2 linked regions of the Homo sapiens genome follow. The protein of the gene in region 1 purifies or fractionates together with the protein of each later gene. This does not show direct contact. Each region holds a gene or a part of one and is shown on either strand. Other genes may lie near its edges. The genes, in order: ZNF286A and ECI2.

Region 1 (2,603 bases):
GAAAAAGCAGAGAACTTATAAAGAGAAAAAACCTCATAAATGTAATGATTGTGGTGAACTCTTCACCTACCATTCAGTGCTTATTCGACACCAGAGAGTCCATACTGGAGAGAAACCCTATACCTGCAATGAATGTGGGAAATCTTTTAGCCACAGAGCTAATTTAACTAAACACCAGAGAACTCATACTAGAATTCTCTTTGAATGCAGTGAATGCAAGAAAACCTTCACAGAAAGCTCATCCCTTGCAACACATCAGAGAATTCACGTTGGAGAGAGACCTTATGAATGCAATGAATGTGGGAAAGGTTTTAATCGAAGTACACATCTTGTGCAGCATCAGTTGATTCATACTGGAGTGAAGCCTTATGAATGTAATGAATGTGATAAAGCTTTTATTCATTCATCAGCACTCATTAAACATCAAAGAACTCATACTGGAGAGAAACCTTATAAATGTCAAGAATGTGGGAAAGCCTTTAGCCATTGCTCATCCCTAACTAAGCATCAGAGAGTTCATACTGGAGAAAAGCCATATGAATGCAGTGAATGTGGAAAAACTTTTAGTCAGAGCACACATCTTGTTCAACATCAGAGAATTCACACTGGAGAGAAACCCTATGAGTGTAATGAATGTGGGAAAACCTTCAGCCGGAGCTCCAATTTTGCTAAACATCAAAGAATTCATATTGGAAAGAAACCGTACAAATGTAGCGAGTGTGGAAAAGCCTTCATTCATTCATCAGCTCTCATTCAACATCAGAGAACTCATACCGGAGAGAAACCCTTTAGATGTAATGAGTGTGGGAAAAGCTTTAAGTGCAGTTCATCTCTCATCAGACATCAAAGAGTTCACACTGAAGAGCAACCCTGAAAAATTACTGAATGTGAAGAAATGTAAGTTGGTTTTATCACTGTATTAAATACTTGAGTGTTTAGGTGGAAGGCGCATCCATAATATGCATGTGAGGACCAATTCTGTATGCATCTAATTTCATTTGCGTAATACATAGTTTTGAGCCATAAGCAGGTTCTTTATGTCCGTTAATTTGATAATTATGAAATCTAGCCAGCGATTTCAAAATTTTAATCTCCAACGTCCCAAATAGCTATCTGTGGAAATTCAAGAAGTCCCTGAGAGTAGGTAGCAGTACGAACATTGTGAAATCCAGTTTTCCCCTCTCTTGTTTATGTCAGAGCTTTGTTGTAAGCCTCTCACTTTGTAAGGAAATTCTTATTGGGTAGGTTAGGCTGAGGGCTTACATCCTTATCATCAGGAAGACACAATGTTGTTATTTATTACTCCTTGAGATCTAGATACACATATGGTATAATTCATCTAGAGTGTAATTTCTTTTATATTAGCCTTAAAAACCAAAAATGCTGGGTTCAAAGTCCTTAGAATTCCCTTCCTCCCTCAACAAGCTGCTGTCTATGTTGATGACCATAACTGGGATGTATAATATTTACAGACAACTCTAAGTTACGTTCACATGGATTATGTACATCATTGATTTTTTTTTTTTTTTTTTTTTGAGACAGAGTCTTGCTCTGTTGCCCGGGCTGGAGTGCAGTGGCGCGATCTCGGCTCACTGCAACCTCCACCTCCCAGGTTCATGCCATTCTCTTGTCTCAGCCTCCCAAGTAGCTGGGACTACAGGCACCTGCCAGTACGCCTGGCTAATTTTTTTTGTATTTTTAGTAGAGATGGGGTTTCACCATGTTAGCCAGGATGGTCTTGATCTCCTGACCTCGTGATCTGCCTGCCTCGGCCTCCCAAAGTGCTGGGATTACAGGCATGAGCCACCATGCCTGGCATCATCATTGATTTATGTCATTGTTATCCCTCTACCGCGGAGACCTTCTTTCATTTTCCATTTCCCTGGGAGTTCACGTGAAGTAGTGAATGGGTCAAAATCTTAACAGTGGTTGTTGATCAAGTCCTTCCTTTCTTATCCTTGGCACTGAATAAATCTTTGGTTTTCCATAATCAAAGGGTGAGGGAGACTTCTTTTGTCTACATTATTCAGCTTTCTGAAAGCTATGCTGTGTCCATTTGAGAAAAAGCCCCAGGGATATTGAAGGTCTGAGAAGTTGAGTGGTTCAGTGTGTTATTATATTTAGGGTCCCAGTAAAGAAGAACTGAAGCAACTGTGAGACACCAGGGCATACTTCCCTGTATGAGTGGAAAACAAGGCACGGAAAATAGCTCACAGGATAGTCCTCAACTGACTTGCTTGAGGATAAGCAGCTTCCCTTCGTGAAGAAGTTGCCATTTCTCTGGCCTTCATATTTATCTACTTTTTGTTATTGTTGTCTGTATCGGTTCAATCTCACACTGCTATAAAGAAATGCCTGAGACTGGGTAACTTATAAAGAAAAAAGGTTTAATTGGCTCATGGTTCCATGGGCTGTACAGGAAGTATGACTGGGGAGGTCTCAGGGAGCTTTTACTCATGGCAAAAGGCAAAGCCAGAGCAGGTATCTTCACAGGGCTAGAGCAAGAGGAAAAGAGAGAGGGGAGGTGCTACACACTTTTTATGCAACCAAATCTCATGAGAACTCTATCACGAGACAGCAGTAGGGGGACAGTGCTAAATCAT
Region 2 (3,835 bases), on another chromosome or scaffold:
TTAACAAAATCCTAATAGGCAATGAAAACAAGCTCAATTCCCACTGCCCCACTTTGAGATCTTGCAGCAATATTTGCTAAGCCTTTTCCTATAGCTCAGCTTCTGGTCTTGTCACAATCCCCTTCGAGTCATGCCACAGGGCGTGGGCAACTAGGAAACACAGTGAAAGACCTGAGCAGCCACTTAACCAGCCTGGGAGAGAATACACCCGTGAGCAGGCTGATGGAAGGGCTGCTGTGATTGGGGGTGGCTCTGGCAGCCGTGAGCCCCCACAAAACCTCCCATCTGTTGGTACTTACTGTAACTCTGAAAGTGAAGACGTCATCATGTCTCTCCTTAGGAGATACTGGTCATCCATAAAGGAACCGAGTGGCCTCCAAACTCAGGGGACCAAGGGAGGCTGGCACAGCCCTGGTCCTTCAAGTGACTAATGCCACACAGCTGCAAGGCTGAGGTGCTGTGCTGCTTGCAGTGCAGCTAGCACTAAGCAGCCAGCTGAAGAGGAGGATCCCAGTTCTGGGAACTGCAGAGAGAATTTCTAATTTTCCTGCATAGCAGATACTTCCCATAGCCTGATTCCTCCATTGGTAAAACTCTTAAAGAGTTGAAAAGCAAATCATTAGCTTCTCTTTTGTCCATATTACCAAGGGAAAGAAGGGAGAGTATATGAGATTACTCTTCCTTCTTTCTTGAGATGACTCATAAAATTTTATATTTAAACATTCCAAAAGTTACCTTGGCTGGGCTCATTATCTTCGGAAAAGTGTAAGAGGAGCATCCTTCCGGACTTTGGCCTAGGTGACTAAATGGTGTATGAAATGTTGCCTGCAGAGGCAGGAGAGAAAAGAAAACCATCTTTTCATGTGTGATTTTTTTTTTTTTTTTTGAGACAAAGGGTTTCGCTCTTTTGCCCAGGCTGCAGTGAAGTGGCGCGATCTCGGCTCACTGCAACCTCCACCCCTTGGGTTCAAGCGATTCTCCTGCCTCAGCCTCCACAGCAGCTACGATTACAGGCATGCGCTGCCATGCCTGGCTAATTTTTGTATTTTTCGTAGAGACGGGGTTTCGCCCTGTTGGCCAGGTTGGTTTCAAACTTCTTACCTCAGGTGATCCACCTGCCTCGGCCTCCCAAAGTGCTAGGATCACAGGCGTGAGCCACCATGCCTGGCTTCATGTGTTATTTTTAAAAATCACGATTTGCTTATAACTTCACAATACTTAATAATATTTATTTAAAAATTAAGATTATGTGGTTAATATGCACACACAATTCACCCTTTAAAAGTGTATAGTTGGATGAGTTTGAACAAATAGAGAGTTACATAGCCACCACCACTACTGACATGCGGAACATTTCAGCCACCCTGAAAGGTTCCGGGGGCCCTTCTGTAGTCAGTCCCTCCCTCCCACCCCCAAGCAACTGCTAATCTGTTTTCTGTCCCTACAGTTTTGACTTTTATAGAATGCTGTATAAGTGGAATCCTACATTCTGTAGCATTTTGAGTCTGACTTCTGAGAGTCACCATGCTGTTGTATGTATTAGTAGTTTGTTCCTCGCTATTTCTGAGTAGTATTCCTTTGTATGGATGCACAATAATATGTTTATCATTCACCAGTTAATGCCATTGGTGTTGTTTCTAGCATTCAAATGGTTGTACCATTTGACACTGCCACTAGCAACGTATGAAAGGCTACTATGAAGAAGGCTGCTATGAAAAACAAGTTGAACACCTTAAATATATCTAGTCGTGTGTTGCTTAACAATGGGGATATGTTCTGAGAAATGCATAATTAGGCAATTTTGTCATTGTGCCAATATCATGGAGTATACTTACATATACTTGGATGCCACAGCCTACTGCACACCTAGCTATGTGGTAATCCCTACTGCTTCCAGGCTACCAACTTGGACAGCATGTTACTATACTTAATACTCTAGGCAGTTATAACAAATGGCATTTGTGTATCTAAATATATCAAACATAGAAAAGGTAGGCCGGGTGTGGTGGCTCATGCCTGTAATCCCAACACTTTGGGAGGCAGAGGTGGGCAAATCACCTGAGGTCAGCAGTTCGAGACCAGCCTGGCCAACGTAGTGAAACCCCATCTCTACTAAAAATACAAAAATTAGCCTGGTGTGGTGGTGTGCACCTGGAGTCCCAGCTACTCGGGAGGCTGAGGCACAAGAATTGCTTGAACCCGGGAGGAGGAGGCTGCAGTGAGCCGAGATCATGCCACTGTACTCCAGCCTGGATGACAGAGTGAAAAAAAAAAAAGAAAAGGTATAGTAAGATATGGTGTTATAATCTTAGGAGACCAGCGTTTTACATGCAGTCTGCCATTGACTAAAATGTTGTTATGCAGCACCTGACTGTACAATTCTTATTTGTCAAGTATACCTCAATGAAACTGAAAAAAAATTTAAAAATAAAAATGTTCAGATAATGTTAACAAAAAGGCAGTTAGGAACACTTGTGTACAGGTCACTGGGTGAATCTCTTTTAAATTATCATAGGTAAATACCTAAGTGGTATGGCTGGTCTGTGTGGTAAATGTATATTTAGCTCAGAAGCTGCTAGACTGTTTTCTAGAGTGGTTGTACCATTTGACATTCCCACCAGCAATGTATGAAAGTTCCAATTGCTCCACATCCTCACTAAACCTAGCTATTAAGTCTTTTTCATTTTAACCATGCTAGTATGTATGTAGTGGGGTCTCACTGTGGTTTTAATTTACATGTCCCTAACCATTAATGGTATTAAGTCTCTTACCATGTACTTATTAGACATACGTATATTTTCTTTGGTGAAGCAACTGTTAAGATATTTTCTCCACTATTTTTTTAAGTTAGGCTGTTTACCTTCCTATTATATAGTTGTAAGATACACATTCAGATTGCAAGTCTTTTATTAGAGCGTCAGGCAAATCTTTTCTCCTGGTCTATGGCTTATCTTTTCATTTTCTCAGTGGTTTCTCTCATATGGTTTTAATAGCCCTTTATATTTCATTTTGTCTGACCTATTCATTCCTCACCATTGCCCATTTTTATTTTAGCTTGTGGATCTATCGCTTTATAGACAAACTTTAAAAAGTATCGTGGAGAGATCAGCTTTTGTTACATGAGTTGAAAAATTGTTTCCTCAATCTGTCATTTGTCTTGATTTTGCCCCAGTGGTTTTTTTGGTTGGCTTTAACTACTGGAATTAATTCAATATTGGTTATTTAGTATATAGTCATTTTTAGTTTTTTTTTTTTTTACATTTAAGACATATTTTTGTGTTTCTTAATGAATAAATTATGAAAGAATGTTAATTTAAAATTCATAATATGTAAAAGAATATTTAGATTTCATTTCCTATAATCAGACACGCTGTTGTTTTTACTATATAACTGTTAGAAGATATAAATCTATAACATATGCAGCATATACATAAAAATAATCACAATATTTTTAAAAGTTTCTGTTAATGTCATGTATCTTCTTTTTTTATCCAAAAGAAAACTTATTCAAAAAAATGTACCCAGAAGACACAGCCTAAGGAATACAAGCAGGAAACTGAGAAACCTGCCAACAACAGCTAAAGGGACACAAACAGGTACATGCAAAGTTGCCAGTAAGCAGCATTTAAAATGCTGATTTTCAGAAAGAGAGCAGCAGGTGGAGTTAAGGGTTTAGGCTCTGGCGTCAGACTACTTAGGGACGTTGGGAAAGTTTCTTACCCTCTCTGTACCACAGTTTTCTCATTTGTAAAATGGGAACCAATCCTTCTTTGCTTTTTTTTTTTTTTGAGACGGAGTCTTGCTCGGTTGCCCAGCCTTGAGTGCAGTGGCGCAA

What was found.
Region 2: the proteins of ZNF286A (region 1) and ECI2 purify together in Homo sapiens (affinity purification with mass spectrometry; one large-scale study listed by BioGRID and IntAct). This does not show direct contact.

What each region holds. Positions count from the first base shown.
Region 1 is NC_000017.11:15,716,417-15,719,019, forward strand, and holds part of ZNF286A (zinc finger protein 286A), read left to right. Parts: coding exon 1-874; 3' UTR 875-2,603. UniProt on the Homo sapiens protein: May be involved in transcriptional regulation.
Region 2 is NC_000006.12:4,118,451-4,122,285, forward strand, and holds part of ECI2 (enoyl-CoA delta isomerase 2), read right to left. Parts: intron 3,597-3,835; exon of another isoform or gene 3,499-3,596; intron 826-3,498; coding exon 736-825; intron 1-735. UniProt on the Homo sapiens protein: Able to isomerize both 3-cis and 3-trans double bonds into the 2-trans form in a range of enoyl-CoA species. Has a preference for 3-trans substrates.